7 linked regions of the Homo sapiens genome follow. The protein of the gene in region 3 purifies or fractionates together with the protein of the main gene of each other region. This does not show direct contact. Each region holds a gene or a part of one and is shown on either strand. Other genes may lie near its edges. The genes, in order: NMD3, IARS1, UBA1, ARHGAP1, GRPEL1, MZT2A and CIAPIN1.

Region 1 (3,500 bases), on a different chromosome or scaffold from region 3:
CTTTAAAAAGTGTTTGTAGTGGGGTGCTACTGGCAACAATAGTAACATTTAATAGTTACTTTCGAGGCCAGCATGGTGGCTCACGCCTGTAATCCCAGCACTTTGGGAGGCCGAGGCAGGCAGATCACGAGGTCAGGAGTTCGAGACCAATCTGGCCAACATAGTGAAACCCTGTCTCTACTAAAAATACAAAAAATTAGCCAGATGTGGTGGTGTGCGCCTATAATCCCAGCTACTTGGGAGGCTGAGGCAGGAGAATCGTGTGAACCCGGGAGGCAGAGGTTGCAGTGAGCCGAGATCACACCATTGTACTCTAGCCTAGCCCAGGTGACAGTTCAAGACCCCACCTCAAAAAAAAAAAAAAAAAAAAAAATTCCTTTTGAAAAACCTACTCACAAGAATTTTCTGAAAATGAGACCTTTAATGAAAACATACCTATGAATACTGATTTTAGCTGTTTAACTTACCTTACTCAGAGGGGCTTTGATTTTTTTCAAGCACAAAGCAAGAAGTTCCCTGGATTCTAAAGCACACTGTATCCAAGTTCCTGGTGGTTGAAAATACCTAAAAGAGAAGATAACATACTGAAATCCAACATCTGTCAGGAAACACAGAAATTTCCATCTGAATACACAGATATAACCCAAATTATTAACCAGGCATAATAAAACCCAAGGATGATATGAAGCACTTAACTCAAACATATTTTAATGGTTCCAAAACTTTCAACTAGACTAGCAGCTTTAATTAAAAAGGTAAAATTCTGACTGAGAAAGTCAATCTGAAATAACCTACTAAAGTGATCTTATTACTTTAATCACCAAATCACCACTAAAATGTCCAAGAGTCTCTTAAAGCTATGCTCTGAAAAACAGGTGAGAATCATCTCAAAATGGCATTAAAATGGTTTATTATGTACTTCTAAAATGCCTGAGAACTGCTTATTTTTCACAAAAAAAAGGTACATTAGTACCTCACAACACTATAAATCAGCAATAGTTCAGTCTATTCATCTACATTTCAAGTCCTTTTCAAATTGTAAATTGTAAAACAACATTTAAAATCTTGGGTAAAACCAGACTAAAACAAAACTTAAATCTCTTACATATGTGCTTTAAGGTTTTTAGTCCTGCCTACCCAGGACTTAGCACTATGCCACATACATCTTATAGTAGGTGTTCAATAAATGCTTGCTAAATATAAAATACTTCCAAACATGTTATGTGAATGTCTTTTTGCCATACTTGTTACATAACAGAAAGTTTTGACTTTCACTTTTCAAGGTTCAATCAAAAACATTACACAGGTCTCCCTTTGTTTATAAGTACATATTTATTTCGTATTTTTTTTTCCTTTTTTCTTTTGAGACAGAGTCTCGCTCCATCCCCCAGGATGGAGTGCAGTGTATGATCTCGGCTCACTGCAACCTCTGCCTCTCGGGTTCAAGCGATTCTCCTGCCTCTCGAGTAGCTAGGATTACATGCGTGCCCCACCACGCCTGGCTAATTTTTGTATTTTTAGTAGAGACAGGGTTTCACCATGTTGGCCAGTCTGGTCTCGAACTCCTGACCTCAGGTGATCCACCCGCCTCAGCCTCCTCAAGTGCTTGGATTACAGGCGTGAGCCACCAAGCCTGGCCTATGAGTAAACGTTTAGAGTTAGAAAGGGCTTCACATATCACCTAATAAAACCCTTCATTCTGATGAGGAAATTGAGGCCCAGAGATGATAAACAGCTAAGAGTTTCAAACAGCTAGTTTGTGAGGAAGCCAAGACAAACTAAGTCTGTTTAGTTCTTTATCAGTACTTTTCTAACTCCACCAGGCTTTTAATAGCAAATATTTATAAAAGATTAAGCCTCACACTTGCTAAGCTTATACACTGTAAACTCCCTGAAACAGTACACAGTTTCATGTGTTTGTGTATATATATGTATATATACACACACACACATATATATTTTTACATATATACACACACACACACATATATATACATGTATGTAAATATTTTGGGGAAGAGATACAGTTTTCAAATTCTCAAAGGAGTCCATGAACCACCCCTCTAGAGATACACACTCAAAAAGTTAGCGTCTTAATCCATTTTGGAAATAACAGGCATACACTTTTACACTCATTAGGCAGTTTTGTGTTACTCAATGGCCTAATAGATGTAAGTTGTTTATGCTGACAAAGAAAATCAAGAGGAATGAAACATTAACATTCAGAAGAAGTCTTCTTCCTTCAAATCCAATCTTTATTTCAGACCATTCCAGATATAATTTATTGAGCTTCTTTTCCATCAACAATAGTTATTTTAATTACACGTGAATGTTATGAGTTTTTAAAACATATTACTAAATTACTCCAAACATAAGCTTTTTATCATACATGGCTTCTAATAACTAAAGAAAAAAAAACCTCATAATAACAATATGTCCTCAATAATCTGCTCTCACCCTTACAAACATCAACTCCTATTAACTATATACATCAAATCTATTAGATCCTTTAACAGAAGAACAGATTCAAATACATTTACACTATCTTTACCAGATTAGAAGGACACACTAGAAAAGTACACTATAAAATTGCAAATTCTAAAATCTTTGGCGACACCAACAGAAAATTTAAACCTTAATTGCATGCACTTTACTCCATATACCTTCGTGTAATCTCAGCATATCTCGGTGGTTCTCTAAATGTAAATTCCAACTTTAAAAAGAGCAAAATTGTACCGCACTGTACCTTTGACATTGTTTGCAGAACGAAATCGAGACTTGTTTCGGAATACCTTGGCTGATGTCCACTTTACTTCGCAAACAGGCCACACAAATATTGGCAGGATTTGGACTTATCGGAACACCACACTCACAGCACAAGCTTTAATAAATAAAGGATAAATTTTTCACATTAGATTTTTAAAATACACTAAATTTTTTTTTAGATGCCAAACAAACAAAAGCCTTCAAGTTAGGCCACAGCATCTTTGCCCTTTTCAAAAAAATAACAGAAACAAAGCAACCTGGGCCAGCCAGTGGCTCACACCTGTAATTCCAGCACTTTGGGAGGCTGAGGCGGGTAGATCACCTGAGATAAGGAGTTCAAGACCAGCCTCGCCAACATGGTGAAACCCCATCTCTACTAAAAATACAAAAATTAGCCAGGCATGGTGGCGCACGCCTGTAATCCCAGCTACTTGGGAGGCTGAGGCATGCATATCAAACCCAGGAGGTGGAAGTTGCAGTGAGCCAGATCACGCCACTGCACTCCAGCCTGGGTGACAGACCAAGACAATGTCTCAAAAAAAAGAAACAAAAAAAAGAAACAAAGCAATCTTCAAAGATGCAGTAGATAAAGAATAACCCTGTAATACAGGGGCAAAAACACCAAAAATGGCTATAATTCTAAAAATCCTCAATATAAGGCCGATGTCCTAAAGGTTCTAGAAGGTCAGTACTGTCCAACAGAATTTCATGCCACGACAGAAATGTTCTATTCT
Region 2 (3,500 bases), on a different chromosome or scaffold from region 3:
GATCTCTTGAAGCCTCTGTGGCTTTGTTATTGTGAAATTTTAATCAAGAAGGGGCATAATACACGGGTAGTGGGGCAGCTTGAAGAGGAGGGGAAGCTGATTAACAGTGTAGCTGCTTCTCCATAGGGACCATTGTTGTGGAAGGCCATGAATTGCACGATGAAGACATCCGCCTCATGTACACCTTTGATCAGGCCACAGGTGGGACTGCGCAATTTGAAGCACACTCAGATGCTCAGGTATTTTTCTGTTTCCTAGAACATTTCTTTACCAAGAGATGAGAGCATAAGAGGAGAAAGTATTTGCCTGTGCCTTTCCTGATAATGTTGACAGCTTGTCTCAGGGTAAAATAAACCAGTTACTTGGTTTAGATTGGCTTTATTAAACTAATATATTATTATGCCCTTAACATATGCATTTGTTTAGTGAATACATAAGTAAGCATTTTGTGATTTCTACATGTCAGTCATTGTCCCAAGTGTGGGGTTGCACAAAAATGAACCCTTCAAGGAATGAGTCAGTCAAGGACACCTGAAATTAAGCCAGTTCTTAGTATTCTACCTGATAAGTTATCTGGTAGAAATAAGTACACAGAGGGCTCCTATCCAAAAATAGGTGTAGGGTGAAAAGTGGTCAGGGAACACTCTTTTCAAGAGAATATACAAACTGTTTTAGATTCCAGGATCAATATTTTTTGCCATATTGGAGAAGAGACTATCTCTTTGCAGTCCTGACCAGACATCCCCAGTCAGCATAGTTGTAAGATCTCGCATGTGGGTTTGGGGATATTGCAGGGGTCCCTCTGTGCTTAGCATACCATGTGCAGGGGAAGGTAGAGCAGCACCTCCATGAAAGGAAGGTCGACCTCCTCAGTCCTTTACCCAGGCGCTTAAGTTAGATGTGTACAGAACTCTACGTGGGAAGACAGTGGCAAGGAGTCGGAGGTATCGTAGCTGGGAAAGAAGGCAGGGAGGAGGTTTCTAAACACTGACAGTGGGCAGTTCTTCCTCATTACAGCAGATGTTAGGGGCCTGAAAAGTTGTCCACCTTACAAAAGTGTCATGTGATGCTTCTGAGTTTCTTGACATGGCTTACATGTTGTAGTGGCCCTGCACTGACTGGAATTTTGAGTTTATCATGCATTTCACTACCTCTGATGCCTTTATGAAGTGAGTCATTTCTTAACTTCTCTGTTTACTCAAAGGTAAATGAGATGATGCCTAATGTACAAGTCTTTTGTAGAGTATATTTTACTCTGCAACATGCTGTGTAACAGAAGCGATAGTGTCATTATTGCTACATCATAATCAGCAACCTTCAGAATAGATGAGATAGAAACATTAACCTTAGCAAAAATATGGCAGTTTAAGTCACAGAAAGTTTTGTGGTCCATTGTAGAATTTGTCTTGAGTCGTTCTGACAAACCTGAAGATCACAGGGGTCATGGTATAGGAAAGTCACTTGGAGTTGACTGCGCTGAGGCCGTTGATCCACTTGTTGTGGCCTGAAAAGCTGTGCTGCTCCAAGGGCTTCATGATTATTGATCTTACTTATTAGAAGAGTTGATATTACTTCTTAGATGGCCAAAAAGCAGAGTCATGTGAGGGACTCTGATAAGAGGTGGTCCCAGGGCATCTCCTGTGAGCAGCACCCTACAAAAAAACAAGAAACAAAAACCTGCACACCTTTCTCCAGAGACAGAGGACTAGCTGATTATGAAGAAGTACCTGAATGATAAACTAGATTAATTTTATTGCTTTTGCTCATTTGTGTGAAAAAATAGTGCTGCATTATAGACTCTCCAGATTTAAATAACATTTTGCTGAGTTGGGAAGAAGTGTTTCTCCTTATTTGATTGTCATGGTGTGCACTGTTCATTCCCACAGGCTTTGGTCCTCTTAGATGTCACTCCTGACCAGTCAATGGTAGATGAAGGAATGGCTCGGGAAGTCATCAATCGCATACAGAAACTTCGCAAAAAGGTTAGTTTGTCAGTTAAGAATAAGCTACTGTTTTGGCTTTTTGTTTGTTTTGGTTGTTTGGAGAAGATAGGAGAGGCAGGTAATATAAACCATAGTGATCAATGCATAACAATCACTAATCCATAGTCCATTTGGAATGTATTCTGCAGAAAAGTCACTCCTCTTCCTCTCCCCACGTGTTCACTCCCAAGTCGTAGCTTTCAGCCAGCCTGTGCCTTTTCCCATCCTTTTTTTTAGCTCCGTTGGGCTTCTACAGAATATCCCCTGTGACTGGAGCAGAAGGTAATCAGAGCTGATAGTGTCTTTGCAGAAGGGCAGAGGTGCAGTCAGCATAGACAGGCTTCTAGCTTAGGGGAGATTCCCGGATTTGGACAGAGTTGGGTAGTTTTTCCTTATTAGAGAGCTGAGGAATATGCAGGGAGCTCATCCTGGAGCGCAGAGGGGCTGCAAAGCCCCTGCTAGTGAGAGAATCAGGAATTTCTTGCCCTGTAGAGGGCAGTGACAGCTAACATACATCTTTCTTCCCAGACGGTTCAAGGTCTGAGGAGGCTGTTCCAGCAGATGAGTGGGTGCTTGTGACCTCTGAATCAGTTCAGAGCTTTGTAAGTGGGTTCTAAGTAATTTCTTGGTTTCAACATTCATGAGGTACTGATTGTTCTAGGAAAAGAAACATGCCCTATCCCCCAAAGAGTGGTGAAAAAGACACAAAGTTAATCATGTACTGAGTGCAGTTAGTCTTACGGATCACCCAGCAGGGAGGGAAGGGTGACTGCCCTTCTGTGATGATTCAGCATGGGATCTGTAGCCCTTGTTCAACAGTACCTTCCTTCAGTTCTGATTAATAGAATGTACTTCCCTTTTAAATTTTTCTGTGTGTGTTTTCAGTGCAATCTGGTTCCAACTGATGAAATCACAGTGTACTATAAAGCAAAGTCTGAAGGAACATATCTGAATAGTGTTATTGAAAGCCACACAGAGTTCATATTTACCACCATAAAGGCTCCCTTGAAACCATATCCAGTTTCTCCATCGGATAAAGTCCTTATTCAAGAAAAAACACAGGTGAGTCCTGAGTTCCACTGAACTACTACTAAAGGGTTTCAGATTAGGTTTGACTTTGTGTACTCACGTGTTGATATTCTGTCCCACAGTAGAGATCGGCACAGCACTCTGTCTTGAAGTATTGCTCTGGACAGTAGTGGGTAGAGTCAGAGAGTGGAAGCTCAGAAAAGATGGAGCAGGGAGGGAAGATGGAACTGTTTTCACAACAGTTCTCTTGAGGAAGGTAGCCAGGAGGGTACATGAGCTTTGCCCGGAAATAAAATGGCCTGTTTTTTCTAAAACTAGAAAAGGCAGTGTGTGGATTCTGGTAATTATCATTAAAAGTAAATAGCAATTGGCTTGAAAAACATTTAACTCTTCTGGTAGTGGGTTCTCCATAAAAGTACAGTACAAAAAAAGAAAGATTACAATAGCATTTCTGTTGTTACATCTAGGAATTTTAGATATACTTATGAA
Region 3 (3,500 bases):
GTCCTTATATGCCAGCTGCAATTCCACGTGTTTAACCCTCACAAAAAGTCCATGAAGTCAGTGCTGCTACCACGCACTGACTACAAACAGGAAAACAAAGGTACAGGAGATGAAACAACCTGCTTGAAGTCACACTACCAAGGCTGGAGGCCTGCAGCAAGGCAGTATGGCTCTACAGTCTGTGCCCACAACCACTATGCTGTACTGTCTGTACACATCTTCCCCACTTGAAAAGGCGGGGCCAGGCCGGGTGCGGTGGCTCACACCTGTAATCCCAGCACTTTGGGAGGCGGAGGCGGGCGGATCACAAGGTCAGGAGATCGAGACCACCCTGGCTAACACAGTGAAACCCCGTCTCTACTAAAAATACAAAAAAAAATTAGCCGGGCGTGGTGGCAGGCGCCTGTAGTCCCAGCTACTCGGGAGGCTGAGGCAGGAGAATGGCGTGAACCCAGGAGGTGTAGCTTGCAGTGAGCCGAGATCGCGCCACTGCACTCTAGCTTGGGCGACAGAGCAAGACTCCGTCTCAAAAAAAAAAAAAGAAGAAAAGAAAAGGCAGGGCCAGGGGCTAACTGCTGCCTGCATACTCTAGTCCCCCAGCACAAAACCTGACATTCAGGCCGACCCATTAAATCAATATTGAACACTACTGAATAAACCAGAGATGGGCTCTGAGAAAACTGGGCAGAAGGCTGGGTAGTACCCCCAAGATACCTGGAAACCACTAAGGAAGTCCTCAACGAGGGGTCCAGTGTAGGCAGTGACAGGCACATAGCTGTTGAGCTCAGCGAGGCGGGGCTGTGATACCTCGGCCCGGTTTTTACCGATGTCCTCCTCCCGCAGGTAGAACTGTAAGGGTGTGCAGTAGGGAAAAAGATGAAATGGCTGTGGCACCGGGAACAGTGGTGCCTCGGGAAGGGGGAAAGGGGGAAGGGTGCTAGGAAGAGGTACCTGGGAGGAAAGATCAGCCCACTGGGCAGTGCCCTGGTCATGTAGGGTAACAGCCTTGACCCCACCAAGGATGATGTTCTTAGCGATCTCCACGCCCAGGCCCCGCAGGCCTGATACCAGGACACTGGATGTCTGGAGCCGCTTCATTGCCTCATGGCCCAACACATACCTGCCAGGTTAGGGGGTACTCTAGGTCAGGGCCTGCCCCACCCAACCTTATCCTCTCAATGTCCCATTCCACACCCCTCAGCCCGGCCTTGGCCCCACTTACAGCTGCCGGGAGTAAAGGCCCTCGTCTATGTCTGCTTCACTGCCGTTCTTGGCCATTCCCTAGGAATAGAGGAAAAGAACAAGTTTAGGGAGACACACAGGAGTGGAGCATGGATAGACAGACAGTGATACAAAAGACTTTCCCACCCACCACCTCGTCTGCCAGTCTCCACGGAGAGGACACTCACGTTGGTTGGCACCGAGGGCACTTCGGACAACACGGACTGGGCAGGGGAGCAGTTAGAACCCGGCTTTGGATCAGGCCCGGACACGCGACGTTTCTTGGACAGCGGCGAGCTGGACATCTGGAGGAAAAAAAGGTCAGAGGTGACCCTGGAGCACATGGGTACCGTTTTTCTGTTTGTTAGTAGCAACTGTGGGGGAAGGGAAGACTTAAGTATTAGTACCCCCATTTTACAGCAAAGAGGGGACAGGCACAGAAAGGTGAGGACTTGCCCAGGGTAACACAGCTGTCAGACCTAAGATCTGAACCCAGGTGGTCTGATTTGCAAATCCACACTGCTGACCACTAAGCCATTTGCTTCTTCCCAGCCCAGCATAATGAGGGAGAGACTCCAATCCTGGAGTGAAAGGAATGACAAGAATGTACTTGTGTCGAGGTCAGGGGAAGGATGTGGATTCAGGACAGACCTGGTTTCAAATCTTGAGCCTGCCACGCACTAACAGTAATAATTAACCGCCACAGGCCTCAGTTTTCTCACCTGTGAAACAGGGGTGATAATACCACTTACCTTCCCCACGGGGTTATCGAGATGATAAATAACACAGAGCATAGAACCTGGCACAGAGTAGGTAGGCAGTAACAAGCAGCCATTCTCCTCTCCCTTAATCCCAGGGATGGCGGCGGGAGCGGGGAGTGCAGGAGGGAAGTGAGGCTTGGACATCCATCAGGGTGGCATGATGGCAGGAGCGGTAACTTGCTGAGAACCCAGTCCCCAGAGGGGCTCAAGTTTTATAAAGCCCAACCCTGCCCCCAGCTTTGGGAGGGGAAAACCGACACAGACCAATAAAAGAGGTTGCAAAAAGATAGAAAACAAACACATCCCAAGCCTCATCTGCATGCGGAGTCCCTTAAACAGGTTAACCACAATGATAAATGAGTATTAGATTGATCAGGAGTCCTCCTTGTGCCAGATGCCATAGTAAGCACTTCTCTAAACCTCGTCTCACTCTGTCCTCAGGGTACTCCTGTGGGGTTTGGACTGCTATCAATAATACCCCCAACTTTAAAGTGATGGAAAAAAATTCACTCAGGGACGTTCGGTGACCAAGGTTCCCACACACTGAGCTGGGACCAGACCAGGATCTGCTGACTCTGAAGCCCAGGCTGCTTCCTCGTGTTATCACGTTTCATCCCCTCCATGACCCTGACCCAGCAAGGCAGAGTTTAGTGTCCTTGCCGGACAAATGAGAAGTAACTTGCCCAGGGTCACCTGCTAGGTCCCAGAGACAGAACAATAAAGCCTGCTGTGGAAGTGAAATCTGGTGGTGGGGGTGACTGGGTCCACATGCTGGAGATGGGAGGACCCAGCGTCACTTCCCCTCACCCCAAGTGCTCCTCTAGGCACTGAGTCTTCTGTTCACACAAGTCCTCCCACACTGAGACTTTTATGACACTAAGTATCCCAATGTACCTAAGATTCCATCTTGGCACTTGTCACTAGCACCAACCACAATGACAAGAGCTCCCTACTATCTACCAAGAGCATACTGTGTGTCAATCAAAGAGGAAAGGGCTTTGTCTAATCTTAACAATCCCCATGACCCAGATAACCCTATGCCCAAATCACAAATGGGAAAAGAAAGGCTTAGAGAACCCCATTCACTCGCCCAGAGGCATGCAGCTGGTGGGGGACTGTTTGCCAAATGCCCCTGGGCTCAGGGCCCAGTCCACAGGGCTAAGGAATGGGAGATGAGGGGAGGCAGCAGGCTGGCTGGAGCCCCTGAGATAGCCAGGTGAATTGCTTAGAATGCTAAGAGCCAACCTGGGTAGCAAGAGGCTTGGTGAGTTAGTAGAGACAAAGGTGAACCATATTTTCCATTTACTGACTCTCTGACTGACCTGGGGTAGAGATCTCATTTCCTCTGAGCCTCATTTTCTCCAAAAGCTGGGACAAATGAAACTGTCTTCAAGGGGCTGCTGGCAGGGTTAAAGAAGCCAAGGTCTGTGGTCAGAACTCACTGACCTGAGGATGTGAGTTCCTCCCTGGGCACGTGTAGTGGCCTCTATTACTTAGTTATCTCCTTGCCTTGTCATT
Region 4 (3,500 bases), on a different chromosome or scaffold from region 3:
TCCATGGGGACACCATCACCCAGAAGGTCCCTGAGCCACCACTCAGAGGCCATTGCCCAAGGCCAGACCCTCCCGCAAGCTCCTTTCCCTTTGGGGCCTGGGTGTGTCCCCACACAGCCTCCCCCACCCCCATCCTACCTCCCATAAATCTTCTGCTATTTCCGACTCCCAGGCACCACCAACTCCCAGCTCCCCAGGGTGAGACTGCAATTAAGCTAGCCCCATCTGGCCTCCACCGAGAGCCCTTCCTGATCCACAGCCCCAGAGGTTGCAGTCCAAAGAGGACAAGCACAGCGAGCCAGGACGGACACCTACCTGGCTGGGCCCCCTCAGGCTCATCGTAGTCTAGGGAAATAGAAACAAATTGCAGCTCTGTGCGGGGGTTGTGGGGAAGGAGGTGTCACCCACGGAGGTGGGGAGGGGCAGGCTCCCCCAGCTCTGCCTTGACCAAACAGGCCAGGATGATGTCAGGACAGAGACTCCTTCACATCAGGTACCCCCCAGACTCCAGTCAAGTTCAGAACCTTCAAGGTGACTTTCCCGTGCCCAATTCAGGACCAGACTGGGGAAAAAACTCTCAGCTTTGCTTCTGCAGGGGGTGAATGAGGCCAGAGCCAAGGCCCTCAACCCAGATCAGGGCAGGCGCCAAGAATACAAACGCCATGGAAACACCTTTGACGTTCGGGGCAATCCTCTCAACTGCCCCCTCCCTTTCCAAGCCCAGCACCCCCATAGCCAGACAGGCTTCTTCCAGGGCCGGTGTCTGCCAGGTTCTCCTTGCCCACGCCAATGCCTCAGAGCAGGGCCATGCTGCCACCCTGCTTATGAATGCCTGGCCTCACCAGCAAGGATGGACAAATGTTAGGGAAAAGATAAAGGATCCTAGATTCCAGCTGCTCCTTCTAAAGTGGGGCCCTAAGGGCAGCAACCACCTCATCAGCCTGACTCCCTGGCTCCTGGTTTCTTCTGGGTCCCCCCTTATGAACAGGAGGGAGGGAGCTCCCTGAGACAGAGACCTAAGCGGGGCTCTGTACCCACTCTCAGCAGGGCAGCATATCTGCCAGGAATCTGGTGCTCCAGGGAGCCATGTGCCCCCTCCCCATTTTTGGAAAGAGGCTCTGCCCATTCCAGACTTCCCTAGGGCTACAATTTCCCAGGAAGGACTGGCACTCCTCATCCTCCCCAGTAACTGATAGGGTGGAAAAGCCAACATTAGGGTGGAGGGGTAGGAGGGCAATAGAACGAGGGGAAGGGAAGGCTACTTATTCAAGGCCAACTGTGTTCTGGCTCTGGGCTAGGCCCTGACATGCATTCATTATTGTAACCCACAAGGAAGAAATTAGAGTTCAAAGAGCAGAGCTGGAGATCAAACCCAGGGCTTTCTGACTTCAAAGCCACTAGGCCACATGGCTCCCCACATGCCAGGAGCACCAGGGCCAGCGGTCAGACTGCAGAGAGGCCCTTCCCCTGTGGTGTGAAGGGCTGACTTCCTGAGGCCAGGAGCTCTGAGGGTTAGGAAAATAGTGTTGGGTGTGCTTACCTGCCACCTCCACGATCTGGTGCCGGGCGATGTCATAGTATGGGTCATCCCACTTCAGGTGTGTGACAAGTTCCGGGGAGCTGCTTTTGGAGTCATCTGAGGAACACAGCAGGGTCAGGGGACAAGCCAGGGGGCTGGCACCATGCTCTGCCCCACAGGCATGCTGTCTGGCCCTTCCCCCAGTAAGGCCCATGCTCCCAGCCCAAACCTGGGACTGGTCTGCCCCATCCTGCCCTCCTGGCGTCTCCCTTCAGCAGAAGGAGTGCTTCCCCCTCTAAAGCGCCTGTAGCTGCCTGAGACCAGACACAAGCCCACCTGACTTGGGGAAGTCAGGCATTTCATCCGAGGGCCAGTTCTTCTCATCGATGGAGGCCAGCTTCAGCTGGTTCAGAGCCTCGCTGGTGTCATCCAAGGTCAGATCATCCTGCAGCTCTGAGAGCGGATCCATGGCCAAGCCTGTCCCAGACAGCCTTGCCCTGCAGAACCTTAAGAGAAACCTGGGAGAGAGGAAGACAGGTGGCAGGTCAGTGACCTGCTCTTTTCACCTTCTGCGACCTCCACCGCGTGCCCTCCTGCCCCCACCATTCCCTCTCCCAGGCTCCCTGTCCCTATTCCTCAACACTCCTCATCCCCGCCAAGAGCTCCACGTAGCTCTGGGTTCTCCTGGCTCCGTGGCTCAGGCGTGTTGCCAGAAAAGGCAGCTGGGGCAGAGGATGGCACAGCTCAGCGCCTCCCTCCAGGCCCTGCAGCTGGGGAGGGAAGAGCTGTGCCAGGTCCTGTGCCGCCCGCCACCCAGCTGGCTCAGTGATGCAGTCCCAGCTGTAGAGGGCAGAGGTCCACGCCCCTCGCCTCAGGAGACCTGGACACAGAAGCCTCCCAGGCTCTAGCAGTTACAGGGGTAGAAATGTTGTAAGAATCTAAGGAACATGCTGGGCACCGTGGCTCACGCCTGTAATCCCAGCACTTTGGGAGGCCGAGGCAGGCGGATCACCTGAGGTCAGGAGTTCAAGACTAGCCTGGCCAGCATGGTGAAACCCCATCTCTACTAAAAATACAAAAACTAGCTGGGCGTGGTGGCAGGCATCTGTAATCCCAGCTACTCAGGAAGCTGAGGCAGGAGAATCACTTGAACCCAGGAGGCGGAGGTTGCAGTGAGCCGAGATTGTGCCATTGCACTTCCAGCCTAGGCGACAGGGCAAGACTCCATCCCAAAAAAATAAAAATAAAAAAATAAAAGCTATGGCTGAGGGGCCCAGCTGGGCTTGCTCCAGGACAGGAACTAGCAGCAGGGGATGTGGAATCGCCTGCCAGTCATTGCAGACAGTCTGCAGGCTCCTAGGGGCGTCCAAGCCCACTCTTACTCTGCAGGGTGCTCCTGACACCAGTTTCAAGGTGGAAAGGTTGACGGCCCTAAGGATTGGAGGGCGCAGATGGGAAAGGGGGATGCTCGTGATGTCTGGGGTGCTGAGATGAGGAGGTCACCAGCAGAACAGCAGCTCCGGCAGGCACAAGGCAGACTCGACCACCAAGCTGGGTTTCTGTAGGTCTGGAATCTGGCCAGAAGGCTGCAGCCGCATGCAGCCTGGGGGTAGGCACCTCTGCCCTCAGCCCTAATGGGCAGCAACTCCCCCTCCTGCCACAAGCTCCCCACATGAGGGAGGGCAGTTTTTAGTTCAACCTATTCAGTCTAACCCCAGGGAAGAGGCTGCTCCATGTCCAGCTGCATTCCTGGAGCCCCAAAACTGACATATATGGTCAGAGAATCAGCAGGGCAGATAAGGAGAGCAGACAAGCCCTGGGGGTGGGCAGGAAGAAGAGGGGGAGAGCTGCCATCCCAGAGCCACAGACTCTGGGCTCTGAGGCCACTTGACAACCTCCTGCACACATCACATCACAGCCAAGGGCCCTGGATGGTGAGCCCTCTCCCTGTGCCTAGCAACAGCCACCCTATCACCAGGGC
Region 5 (3,335 bases), on a different chromosome or scaffold from region 3:
TGCTGGGATTACAGGCGTGAGCCACTGCACCCGACCTAAAGTTGCTTTCTCTTAAGCAGAGACCCTTTCGTGCCAGGTGCTCTCCTCCCTCAAAGCAGCAGTACAGCCAGAGAAAGCCAAATGGGTCTGAGTCTTTCAGGAAGCCAGGCCGACTTTTCAGATGCCTCTGAGACTTCCAGTTCTGGTTTTCACTGTTCACACGTGACACTTCACTCATGCTGCAGTTATGCTAAATCCAGTAACTACTAGAAGGTAGCTAAACAAATCTTTAATTCCTACTGTAAATATGCACATAATTAAAAGACATTTTCCTATTACAGGTTGAGTATCCCCAAATCTGAAAGGCTGCAAAATCTGAAACTTTCTGAGTGCCTACATGGTGCTCAAAGGAGATGCTCATTTAGAGCATTTTGGATTTTGGGATTGGGGATACTTAACCAGCAAATACAATGCAAATAGTCAAGCAGAGAATCTCTTTTCAGTCAATGAGGGGCCACATATTAGAACACAGTTTGCACTGTACCTTTACTATGTTATGTTCAGATACACAGATACCATTGTGTTAACAGTTGCCTACAGTATCAGTACAGTAACGTGCCCTCCAGTCTAGAGCAACAGGCTACATACACCATATAGCCTAGGTGTGGAGGAGGCTCCACCACCTGTTTTTTAGGTCCATGTAGGTACACATGGTGTTCACAGGAAAAACTGCCTGACAGCGCATTTCTCAGAACACATCCCTGTGGTTAAGCCATGCTTGACTATATTCCAAAATCCGAAAACCCCCCAAGTTTGAAACAATTCTGGTTCTAAGCATTTCAGATGATAACCAACTTATAGTGACTATGGATGACTGAAGCTTACTGTAAAAAAATATTTTGCTACTTAAGCTATATTGCCTCTAGGTTACGAGTTAAGTGCTTTTTAGCAACTGCAGCTGTAGTTGAGACGGTAGGAGACTGCAAACATTCACAGAAATGAGTTGATAAATTACTTTTCTTAGCCTCCATTTAACTCGGGAGCTCCAGGGGTGATGATGCACTCACAACCCCACAGCGTGAAAACAGGCAGCGCTGGAGCTCCCAGTCATGTTTTCTTCAATACACGATGCTGCCTTTAGTTGTTTCTGACCAAATTAACTTAAGGCATCTTAAAGGTGGAACATGTTTGGGAATGGTATCCCAAGATGAAGTATTATGGGACCATTACTTGCGTCTTTTAAAATTAGAAGTGAAATAAACTGCCCCATCTTTCCTGTGCAGCAAATGGCTTTCACAAGTATCTTCCATTCTAGAAGCAAAGGCAGCGAAAGGTTCTTTTCTCTTTTTTGTAACAGACGCCAATCATTCAGCCTTTTTCTAAGCCCTGGATGACCGTGTAAATGAGGAACAGCCCTTTGGCAAGATGATTTTGCAAATCCTGTGCCCTTGCTGTGGCTCCTGGGTGTTTCGTATTCTTACCGGACGGGCTGCAGCTGCACTGGGGGAGTGTGGCTCTCCCTTTCTGTGTAGAAGCCTGTATATGTGTGTACGTGAATGTGCACGCACGCACGTGTCAAGCTGACAGCTTCTGGGCTGGAGTAGAGAATGGGAAGGCTAAGCCATGCTTGCCTCAGCGGCAAGGATCTCCATGAGAGGACACAAAATTGTTTTCAGAAAGTAGGAAAATAAACATTAGGGCTTTAATCCTCTTAAATAAAAATTTTAAATTAAACATTAACATTTAAAGTACACCAAGCGTGCAGTCCTATTTTGAGAAAGTCCATTTTGCCAGGGAATACAACTTGAGGTCATTAGTAACTAGTTGAATATGATTTAAATATGTCTGCATTTAGATGAACAGAACAGGGTAAAAGGAACTTTGCCAAGCCAAGCTCAATTCCTGGCCAAATAATGGGGGAGAACTGTCAGTGCCCACACCCATTTCTCAGTGGTCAGTTTCAGCCGCTGTTGACTGAAGACAAACGAACTCACTATGTTCTTCACAAAGATCATTTTTTTTAAGTAAGAAAAATGTTTCAACTCTCTTGCCTTTCCTTCAGCGAATGAAATGTGACGGGCTAAATACGCCAGTCACTCATGCGCCGCAGGGACACATGGTGCAGACTGGCGTGCCCAGGTAGCCAAACAGAATTCCCCAAGACCTTTTATTTGTTTAAAATACTTTGGTGTCAGCAGAGTCTGAGCAGACACGTTACTCATGATGCTCGGGAGACCAGGCAGGGCCCTGCTGAGCTCTTCTGAAAGTATGTGGAACTATTCAACGCGTGGCACTAAAAGGGAACAGACTCCCGAATTAGAGTTCATTAATGCAGTTGGGCAACCGGCTTTTCTGTTTAGCCACTGGTTACTTAAGGTTTCCAATAAGGTTTGGGAAAAGGTCACACGTACTCATAGATGAGAAACAATGAACCAGCCTTGAGAGTTACATCAAGTGAGTTTAAAAACACCCACCCCATCAACAGCAGCTAAGCTTCCTTCACCACCCCCACCAGGGCGGGTCTCAGAGTGCGCCCATGCAGCTTGTACCCCACTTTGCTAACTAGGGCCACTGTGCCTGGCTCCTTCCCCTCAACCGGTGTGTGGAACAAGGCCTCATGTTCATAAGGGTCGAACTTGGCTCCGACAGGGTTCAACTTGAGCAAGCCATGCTTTGTGAACACCTTCTGGATCTGGACTTCAGTCATGACCAGCCCCTCATAGAGGTTCTTCAGGTGAGGGTTATCGTCTTTAATTTCTTCTTTTGGAACACACTGTGTTGCCTTCTCCAGAACGTCTGCCACCTCCAACAAGTCCTTGCAGAAGGCTTGAATGCCTGGATGAAGTTAAAGAAGATCATTTGCACTCCATACCAACCGCACAGGGCAATTCCAAACTGAGCACTGCTGACCTGATGTGGAGGCTATTTAGTAACTTGTCAAATCAATCGCCTCAGAATTCCAATGGCTCAATAACTTTAAAAAACAACACAAAACTCTCAAAAGCTACTTGTGGGATGAGACCCAGAATTTACTAAATTTAGAATTCACTAAAATGTGAAGAAAGGAGTGCAGTAGAGGGGAAAATACCCTTGAGACATCCAAGCCCAGATGTCAAGCAAGCAGTAAGATTTAGGGGACTGGAACTCGGAAGATCCGAGTTTGAAGCTGAGACTTGTGTGTGGATGCCACTAAGCCCGTAAGAGTATGTAAGTCACCCAGGGAGCACAGCAAGGGGAGAGAAGAGGTCTGGTACTGAGTCCCAAGAGCCCAGGCATTTACAGGTCGGAAAGGGTAAGAACCAACAAAGCACATTACCACAAAGAGAGGCGGAATACCAAGAAACAGGCCACAGTAT
Region 6 (4,105 bases), on a different chromosome or scaffold from region 3:
GAGCTCGAGATCCGCCCGCCTCAGCCTCCCAAAGTGCTGGGATTACAGGCGTGAGCCACCGCGCCGGGCCCTGCCTGGCTAGTTTTTGTATTTTTTGTAGAGATGGGGTCTTGCTATGTTGCCCAGGCTGATCTTGAACTCCTGAGCTCAAGGAATCCACCTGCCTTGACTTCCCGAAGTGCTGGGATTACAGGTGTGAGCCAGCACACTGGTCTCACTGGTGGTTTTCCTCACTGCCTCTCACTGGACTGAGTGTGATCATCTCACTTCCCTGCCACGCCCTCTGCCCTGAGAGCTAGGCCTGGCACCCAGAGCCCTGAGTGAGTGCTAAGTGAGCAGCAACATCTCCTGGAGTGACAAGAACTCTGTTCCCAGTTTCTCCCTCCTGCTGGACACTTGCCCCTCAATTGCTCATCTCAGCCTGCAGTCCATACACCCCTACTCCAGGCCTGTCCTTCAGGCCCTCTCCACCCTCTCTTGGGCCTGAGCTCTGGGTGGCAGTGAGGTGGCCGCTGTCAGGAGGCTCATGCAGGAGGCGCGACCAAAGACCCCTGGGCTCTCACAGGCCCCTGATCACACCTGGTGACACCTGGAAAGTGTCCCAACTCAGGAGTGAGGCGGGCAAGGGGGCTGAGTGCTGGAGTGTGGCCATGGGACCAGCACATGGCATCTGTGTGGCACTGCCTGGCAGACTCTGGGAAGGTGGGAGTCTCTGTTTCAGCCTCCAGACTTCCTGTCCAGGTAGGGGACAACTTCTAAGAGGCCGAGGCGTTTGTCACGCCTGGGGCTGTGCTCTCCAGCAGAGCACACTGCACCCGGCTGGCTGTCTTCCCCTGGAGAGGGGCTCTTTACACTCACCACTAGTTCGCCTCTGGGGTGTGGGGATGTTGGTCCTGTCCCCGGATGCCAGCCCGACTGTGGGGTCTAGAGACTGCCACACCATGTCTCTAATAAACCGAGTCAGAAATAGTGCCCTGTGGCTAAGCGGCAGGGCAGCGGTGGCCTGCATGATCCTGCCCTTGCAGCTCAAAGCTGCTTGGGCCTCTTGGGGCCATGCAGTTTCCATGAAAACAAGGAAGAGCACCAACCCCCAGAGATAAGCCAATAAACGCAACCTGCAAAAGGAGAGAACAGGCAGCAAGAGAGGCGGAGGGAACCCGGGGGGCCTGGAGAGAGAGGTGAGTGTGTGGCAGCTGGGCTGTGGAGCATAACCAGAGAGGCCGCAGGCTGCGGGCTGGAGGAAAACGAGGGCCTTGCAGGGGGGCTACTGTTCCTGGCAGAGAGAAAGGAGGCCTCTGGAGGTCAGAGAGAGACACAAAGAGAGCAGACAGAGCGAGGGTCAGTGAAGAGGCCAGCACGCAGGTGCCCGGGCCCTCTTGGGTCAGCGGGCGTGGGTGCCCAGGCCCTGGCACTTCCCCCATGAAGGCAGCCTGCTTTCCACGCCTTCTCATGATGCCTGTGAGGGTCTCCTCCTGCTTCCAGGCAGGGAGCCAGCTCTGGGCCTCCTTCCATTGGCCTGGGAGGTTGTGCTGCATTTCAGAGAGAGCCATCGGGAGCAGAAGCAACATGCGGAGAGGATGAGCAGGGACGGAGGCTCCACCATGACACTCTCAGTCCCAGCATCTCCTCAGCCCAGTCACCACACTGGAGAGGGAGGAGGCCCTTCAGACCCCGCAGGCCTCTGCACCCTGGGAGTTCCGCGTCTAACTCTCTTCCTGCAATCATCAGAGGCAGGAACTGGGCCCAGGTGGGGTAAAGGCAGGAAGACGTCTGCCTGCCCTGCTCCCTGGGCACTTCCCTGGATGCTGTATACCACAGGACAGAGATCGAGACTGTCTTTTGAAAAACATTTAGAGACAGGATCTCACCCTGTCACCCAGACTGGTCTCAAACTCATGGCCTCAAAGGATCCTCCCGCCGTGGGGTCCCAAAGATTATAGGCGTGAGCCACGGCGCCCAGCCCCAAACCGTCTTGATTCCCGACTTTGTAGGATGAAGGCCTGAGTGAAGAGGTGGGGAGGAGCTAAGCGGAGGAGCCCTACCCAGCCTGGACCACCCTGGGGCACGCACTCTGCGTCCACCTGACCTGGACGTGCCTCCTAAGGCTGGCAGCGAAGCCCAGGAGCAGAGCCCACGGATGGGCCCTGCAGGTGCTGGGCCTAGACCGACCGACAGACAGGCCTGGCCACTCAGGGCCACGCCGCCGCTGTGCCGCGCCTGCCCCCTCCCCGCCCGCCACCCCCGCCACTGGGGCAGGGACAGCGGGCCCAGCTCTGACCTCGGGTCTCGGGCACGCTCGACGTGGGCAGAGACACGGCCGCAGGGTCCTGGGGCTCGCTCGCTAGCCTCTGCCCGGCACACATGGACTTGAGCATCTGGAAGACGGCGAGGGGGGCCACGTTCAGCTTCAGCAGGTCCACCAGGATCCTGGCGGGGACAGACGCGGGGCCGGTGAGCCCTCTCCGCCCGGCGCGGCCACCTCCCTGAAGACCGGACAAGGACGGGGGCGGGGGCAGCGGGGGCTCCTCCCGACCAGCGGGCCGGGCGTACCCGGAGAGCAGAGGTCGGGGGTGTCTGGCGAGCATGCGGCCCCCACCCGCCCCGCTCACTTGAACACGTCGGGGTCGATACCGCCGCCCGCCGCCTGAGCCAGCTCGTACAGCTCCATCTCCTCGGTGCTCAGCACCTTCTTGCGCCGCAGCGCCAGCTTCTGCCGGGCCGCCTCCAGCCCCGGGGGCGCCGCCGACCCCGGCCCAGGCCCTACGCCCTGCGCCGCCATCCGCGAGGCCCGCCGAAAGGTGCGCCCCGCCCCGCCGCGCCCCCTAGCGGATGCGCCCACCGCCCTCTCCCTGCAGCGCCAGCGTCTGGCCTCCCGGGCTGCCCTGGCGGGAGCGGCGGGAGCGCGGGGACGGGGCCGCCTCCTCGGCGTCATTGGAGCCCAACAGTTAGTGGGCGCTCACGGTGTGCTGAGCGGCGCGCTAGGCGTCGGGAGTGGCATGGCGGACTGCAGGGGCCAGCTGCTTGGCGGTCAGGGCGTCCCTGATAGACTTGCATTGGTCGTGCTCGCTTAGGTGGCAGCACCCAGCCCAGTGCCAGGCATACATTGGGCGCTCAGTCAATACCTGTTTCAAGAAAGCGTGCAATTTTCTGGTCCGCACCGGTGCACCACTAGGGGTCGCTCTTCGGGGGGGGTGGGGGGCACTAATCAACAACCCTGCTTACGCGCACGCGCATTCCTTGCTAGGGAGAAAGTGCGTGAGCCCTACCTTGGGGCGCCAGAGGCCGCCACAACGCAGGCGCATTCAGCTAAGGACCACTCCCTCCCCCCGCACTCCTGCCTCGCCATTTCCCCTCCCTGGCCGGCCGGCCGGCCTTCTTCGCTTTGCGCACGTACCTTTTGAGGTAACGGCCCAAAGAGGTAGAAGCGCTTTTCCCGCCCGGCCGCGGGGCGTGGCTCTGCGCGCAGCTTGATGACGACGTTTTGGCGCGGTGGCGGAATGGCGGCTTCCACCTCTGAAGCGGGCGACGCTATGGGTCCCACAGGTGAGTGGCGCGGGACGCGCGCGTGAGACGGTCCGACGCCCTGGGGGCTTCCGCGAGCCCCTGCGGAGGCCATCTCCGTTCCTCCGCGAGCCCCAGGACTCGGGCGGCCCGGCGGCTCTGCCCAGGCCGGGCAGGCTGGGGAGTGGAGGGCCCCGGCTGAGTCTTCCTGCCACTCCTCTGGGCCATGCCTTTGTGCCACCTTCCCGCGCCGCTCGTACACTCTGTTCTGGTCCGGTAGGTGTTCGTTGAAGGTTACCCGTCGTTGAAGGAATTGAGGGAAGGAGAGCTTTGTGTTGAAATTGAGCCTTGGGCTCAACAGGCGGTGTGGGAGGAAGAGCCGGGTGTGGGTCCCAGCTCGACCCTTCCCCTGTGCGCTCCACATCTCCGAGCCTTGGTTTCGGAGGCTCCCGAAGCCCAATTCGCAGGAGAGTTGGAAACAAGTGGGCGCGTGCTGTTAAGGGAGGTCTTGGCATGACAGAATTTGCTTGGAATGATTAGCGTTGCCCAAGGGCTGTCGCTGTCAGAAAAACAAAACAAAACGAAACAAAAAAAACAAACGGGT
Region 7 (3,500 bases), on a different chromosome or scaffold from region 3:
AAATCCCAAATCCTAACAGTGCCAAAATGTGCTTTAAGCCTTTTCTCTTCACACCAGTGTCATAACTCAGAAGCCTATAGGCCAGGCAGACAGCAGCAATATGAGAGGCTGCTGAGGGAGACAGAAGTGGGAGGAGGATGAGGGAAGTACCGTGTGTGCTCTGTCTACAGAGGGCAGCCACTACTCAAGCTTCAGCTGGTTATCATGCTGGGGAAAGTGGACCCAGATTGCCATATTTTCCAAATTCAAGAACAGAAGGGAAAAAAATCTGTGTTTTCACTTGAAATTTCCTGATTTGTAAATGCTGGCAGCTTTTACATTTAAAAAACACTGATGATTAACGCTGATGATGAACATCACTGATTAACTTTCTACAATCCTTCCCATCCATTTATAAAAACAAATGTGAAGACACCAAGGTCTCGCTCTGATGCCCATGCTGGAGTGCAGTGGCACAATAGTGGCTTACTGGTAGGGTTTTGAGGGAGAGTGAAATTAGATACATGGCACAATTACGGCTCACTGCAGCCTCGACCTCCCAGGCTCAAGTGATCCTCCTGCCTTTGCCTCCCAAGTAGCTGGGACCACAGGTACATACCACCATGCCTGGCTAATTTTTTTTTTTTTTTAATTATTTGCAGAGATGGTCTCCCTGTGTTGCCCAGCCTGGAAAATGTATGTTCTAAAAATAGTACAGCACCGCGATGTCTTCAGCATGAAGCCACTGGAGGCAGCATGGCAGGCTCCAGTCACCCCAGCACTCACCAGTTCTTACAGGCCTTCCTCTTTTTCCCTTCCCCACAAGAAGCAGCCCGCAGGGAAGCTGGATCTGGCTTCTTCAAATCTTCTGGATCCAGCAGCTCATCTGAGTCAATGAGATCCTGGAGAGTGTTCAAAGCAATGAGTGATACAGTCGTGGTCTCTGCTAATGAAAAGCTAAAGTGACTGCAGGCTTCGAGAGGAAACTTGGAGTCCAGGGTAAAGAAGGTGTCCACCCTGTCCTCCTTTTGGTTGATCATCATGTTCAACCTGACCACATGCTCAAGAGGCCAACGGTGAGTTAAACTACATCCACAGAAGATGCACTAGGATGCAAAGGAATTAGAAACAAATTTACATGAGAAAAAGCTGTATGACTGGCCAGCAATGTGTAGAGAATATACACATGTTGGGGGTTGGGGGCAGGAGTGGGGAGAAGGGAGGGAACAGGCAGAACAGAGAAAGAGAGAAGTGTTTATGAAGAGTCACGTGAAAAAGGGAATAAAATATCTTTTACATAATCCCAGATAAAAATCAAATAATTATATATACCTTTATGTAATTCTTTGTAAATGTGTAGACACTTAGTCTGTAAACCCTATGAGAGCATGAACCTCACTTATTTTGCTCACTACTCTAACTTCAATAGTAGAGGTGTAGAAATGAAGAACTTTATTACAGACATGGCCAAAGATAGAAAATAGTGCTTTTTAAAGCATGGAACAGTCAGCAACTTGCCCAAAGGTGCCAATAAAACTATTTAAGCTGACAAAATCTTTTCAGGTTTACACATGCCCACAAGAGTTTTCAACATATCGTATGAAGTGAGAACAAGAAATTATGTGGGGAAAAAGAGATGCTAAAAAATTTAAAATGCCACCAACATGGCCAAGCGCAGTGGCTCACACCTGTAATCCCAGCACTTTGGGAGGCCGAGGCGGGCAGATCACTTGAGGTCAGGAGTTTTGCGACCAGTCTGGCCAACATGGTGAAACCCCGTCTCTGCTAAAAACGCAAAAATTGGCCAGGTGTGGTGGCACATGCCTGTAATCATAGCTACTTGGGAGGCTGAAACATGAGAATCGCTTGAACCCGGGAGCAGAGATTGCAGTAAGCCGAGATTGTGCCATTGCACTCCAGCTTGGGCAAGAGAGCGAGACTGTCTCCAAAAAAAAAGCCACCAACATGGAGTTTCCTTCTAAATCAAAGATGTGACAGGCATAGTCACAAATCTGGGCTTTAAATACGTTCACACCTACAAGTCCAGAAAGGTCACTATAGCTGTTCACACCCAAACTGGGGCCTGAAAGAAAGCAATCAAGTGACAATGCTGCCAGCTCACCATGCTGTCGTCCTCCATATCGTTGGCTGAGAGGGTCCACAGCTTGGCAGCAGCAGGGTCCACAGCAGGTTTCACTGAGTCCAAGCAATAAAAGAAAAAACTCCATAAACACAGTCAGAAACTATTAATTACAAACATACATAAATGCTTCCTGCTGTGTAGAAGAGAACACACTGGCCTGGGAGGCAGAAGATGTGGGTTCACAGTCCAGCTCTACCCCTCTGAGAGGTCTGACCTTGGGCCAACCACTTGCTGATAGTTACAGAAGTCACCATTTGCTAAGCTCTTGCTTTGCACCAGGCACCATATTAAGCACTTATATACATTATCTAACTTAATTCTGCTGACAACCTTATGAGGTAACTATCTGTCATCCTACTTTTACCGCTGAGGAAACAGGTTTAGACACTTAGGCTGGTTCCACAGGCTGCAAAGCCTGTCTGATGCTTTTAACCTCCATTCCATATTGCTTCCTCCTCGATACCTTAGTTTCCATTCTATAACATGAAGTTAAATTGTACTTCCTATGTTACTGCAGGTGTTTTGAGGATTAAATGAGAAATGTGTCAAAACCTTCAAAAATAGCAGAGCTTTAGCCTCATGTAAACCTGCTACATACAAGAAAATAGGCTCTAGAGCTGCTGGTGGCAAGGTAACACCATCAGTGGCAGACAAACCTCACACTTCCTGGTTCTCTGTCTAGTCAGGAGAATGCAAGGAAGAGGCAGAGAGCTGAGGCTCGGATGCAGTGTGGGCAAATCCTCGCAGGCCCTTGGGGTAAGAGTACCCTCTAGTGATCATTGTCACAGCTGGATGCTCATACCTTCCACAAGGCCAACTGTTCTAAGCTATTCCTACCCATTCTGGAACCATGAATCGAAAGGTTAGATTCCAAAGGATTTCTTGAAGATTTAGGTTAGACAGTCAAAACCGTACAAGTGGGAATGTACCAGTAAATATCTGTTAATGTCTGCATACCTCACAGCTGGGTCAATTCAGGCATTTAAAAATAGGGATAGGAAGGATGAGGATGGAGCTGTGTGTGTGTGTGTGTGTGCGTGCGCGTGCGTGCACGCGTGTGCTTGTACACAATTTTCTAGTCAGAAGAAATATAGTTTTATAAGTGTCTTAGCATCCTCAAAGTAAGAACAGCTGATTTTCCTGGCATGGGGAAAAAAGCACATGAGAACAGGAACAGGGCACTCTCATACACCATTACCACTACACTGTGAGGTCTTCTGAGGAGAAACGTTAATTCTGGGACCTGGAAGGACCTCATTAATTAAACTGTGTGACTCAGTCCTGTAAAATTAGGAGGCCTCGGTATCTTCTGGTGCAGAAGAAGGAGCTGAACTAGATAATACCTATGTATTATTTCAGTTTTGGATCCTAATATGCC

The links.
Region 1: the proteins of UBA1 (region 3) and NMD3 fractionate together in Homo sapiens (co-fractionation; 2 studies listed by BioGRID). This does not show direct contact.
Region 2: the proteins of UBA1 (region 3) and IARS1 fractionate together in Homo sapiens (co-fractionation; 2 studies listed by BioGRID). This does not show direct contact.
Region 4: the proteins of UBA1 (region 3) and ARHGAP1 fractionate together in Homo sapiens (co-fractionation; 2 studies listed by BioGRID). This does not show direct contact.
Region 5: the proteins of UBA1 (region 3) and GRPEL1 fractionate together in Homo sapiens (co-fractionation; one large-scale study listed by BioGRID). This does not show direct contact.
Region 6: the proteins of UBA1 (region 3) and MZT2A purify together in Homo sapiens (co-immunoprecipitation; one large-scale study listed by IntAct). This does not show direct contact.
Region 7: the proteins of UBA1 (region 3) and CIAPIN1 fractionate together in Homo sapiens (co-fractionation; 2 studies listed by BioGRID). This does not show direct contact.

Annotation. Positions count from the first base shown.
Region 1 is NC_000003.12:161,224,311-161,227,810, reverse strand, and holds part of NMD3 (60S ribosomal export protein NMD3), read right to left. Parts: intron 2,882-3,500; coding exon 2,747-2,881; intron 565-2,746; coding exon 468-564; intron 1-467. UniProt on the Homo sapiens protein: Acts as an adapter for the XPO1/CRM1-mediated export of the 60S ribosomal subunit.
Region 2 is NC_000009.12:92,241,698-92,245,197, reverse strand, and holds part of IARS1 (isoleucine--tRNA ligase, cytoplasmic), read left to right. Parts: intron 1-126; coding exon 127-239; intron 240-1,886; coding exon 1,887-1,982; intron 1,983-2,867; coding exon 2,868-3,044; intron 3,045-3,500. UniProt on the Homo sapiens protein: Catalyzes the specific attachment of an amino acid to its cognate tRNA in a 2 step reaction: the amino acid (AA) is first activated by ATP to form AA-AMP and then transferred to the acceptor end of the tRNA.
Region 3 is NC_000023.11:47,196,829-47,200,328, reverse strand, and holds part of UBA1 (ubiquitin-like modifier-activating enzyme 1), read right to left. Parts: exon of another isoform or gene 3,339-3,500; coding exon of another isoform or gene 3,305-3,338; exon of another isoform or gene 2,127-3,304; coding exon of another isoform or gene 1,974-2,126; intron 1,939-1,973; exon of another isoform or gene 1,873-1,938; intron 1,527-1,872; coding exon 1,410-1,526; intron 1,282-1,409; coding exon 1,223-1,281; intron 1,121-1,222; coding exon 952-1,120; intron 850-951; coding exon 715-849; intron 1-714. UniProt on the Homo sapiens protein: Catalyzes the first step in ubiquitin conjugation to mark cellular proteins for degradation through the ubiquitin-proteasome system.
Region 4 is NC_000011.10:46,694,120-46,697,619, forward strand, and holds part of ARHGAP1 (rho GTPase-activating protein 1), read right to left. Parts: intron 2,038-3,500; 5' UTR 1,989-2,037; coding exon 1,856-1,988; intron 1,637-1,855; coding exon 1,541-1,636; intron 1-1,540. UniProt on the Homo sapiens protein: GTPase activator for the Rho, Rac and Cdc42 proteins, converting them to the putatively inactive GDP-bound state. Cdc42 seems to be the preferred substrate.
Region 5 is NC_000004.12:7,058,395-7,061,729, forward strand, and holds the end of GRPEL1 (grpE protein homolog 1, mitochondrial precursor), read right to left. Parts: intron 2,815-3,335; coding exon 2,468-2,814; 3' UTR 501-2,467; downstream 1-500. UniProt on the Homo sapiens protein: Essential component of the PAM complex, a complex required for the translocation of transit peptide-containing proteins from the inner membrane into the mitochondrial matrix in an ATP-dependent manner.
Region 6 is NC_000002.12:131,489,598-131,493,702, forward strand, and holds the start of MZT2A (mitotic-spindle organizing protein 2A), read right to left. Parts: upstream 2,801-4,105; 5' UTR 2,780-2,800; coding exon 2,610-2,779; intron 2,428-2,609; coding exon 2,279-2,427; intron 1,640-2,278; exon of another isoform or gene 1,563-1,639; intron 1,296-1,562; coding exon of another isoform or gene 1,116-1,295; intron 1-1,115. UniProt on the Homo sapiens protein: Required for the recruitment and the assembly of the gamma-tubulin ring complex (gTuRC) at the centrosome.
Region 7 is NC_000016.10:57,430,386-57,433,885, forward strand, and holds part of CIAPIN1 (anamorsin), read right to left. Parts: intron 2,176-3,500; coding exon 2,102-2,175; intron 882-2,101; coding exon 766-881; intron 1-765. UniProt on the Homo sapiens protein: Component of the cytosolic iron-sulfur (Fe-S) protein assembly (CIA) machinery required for the maturation of extramitochondrial Fe-S proteins.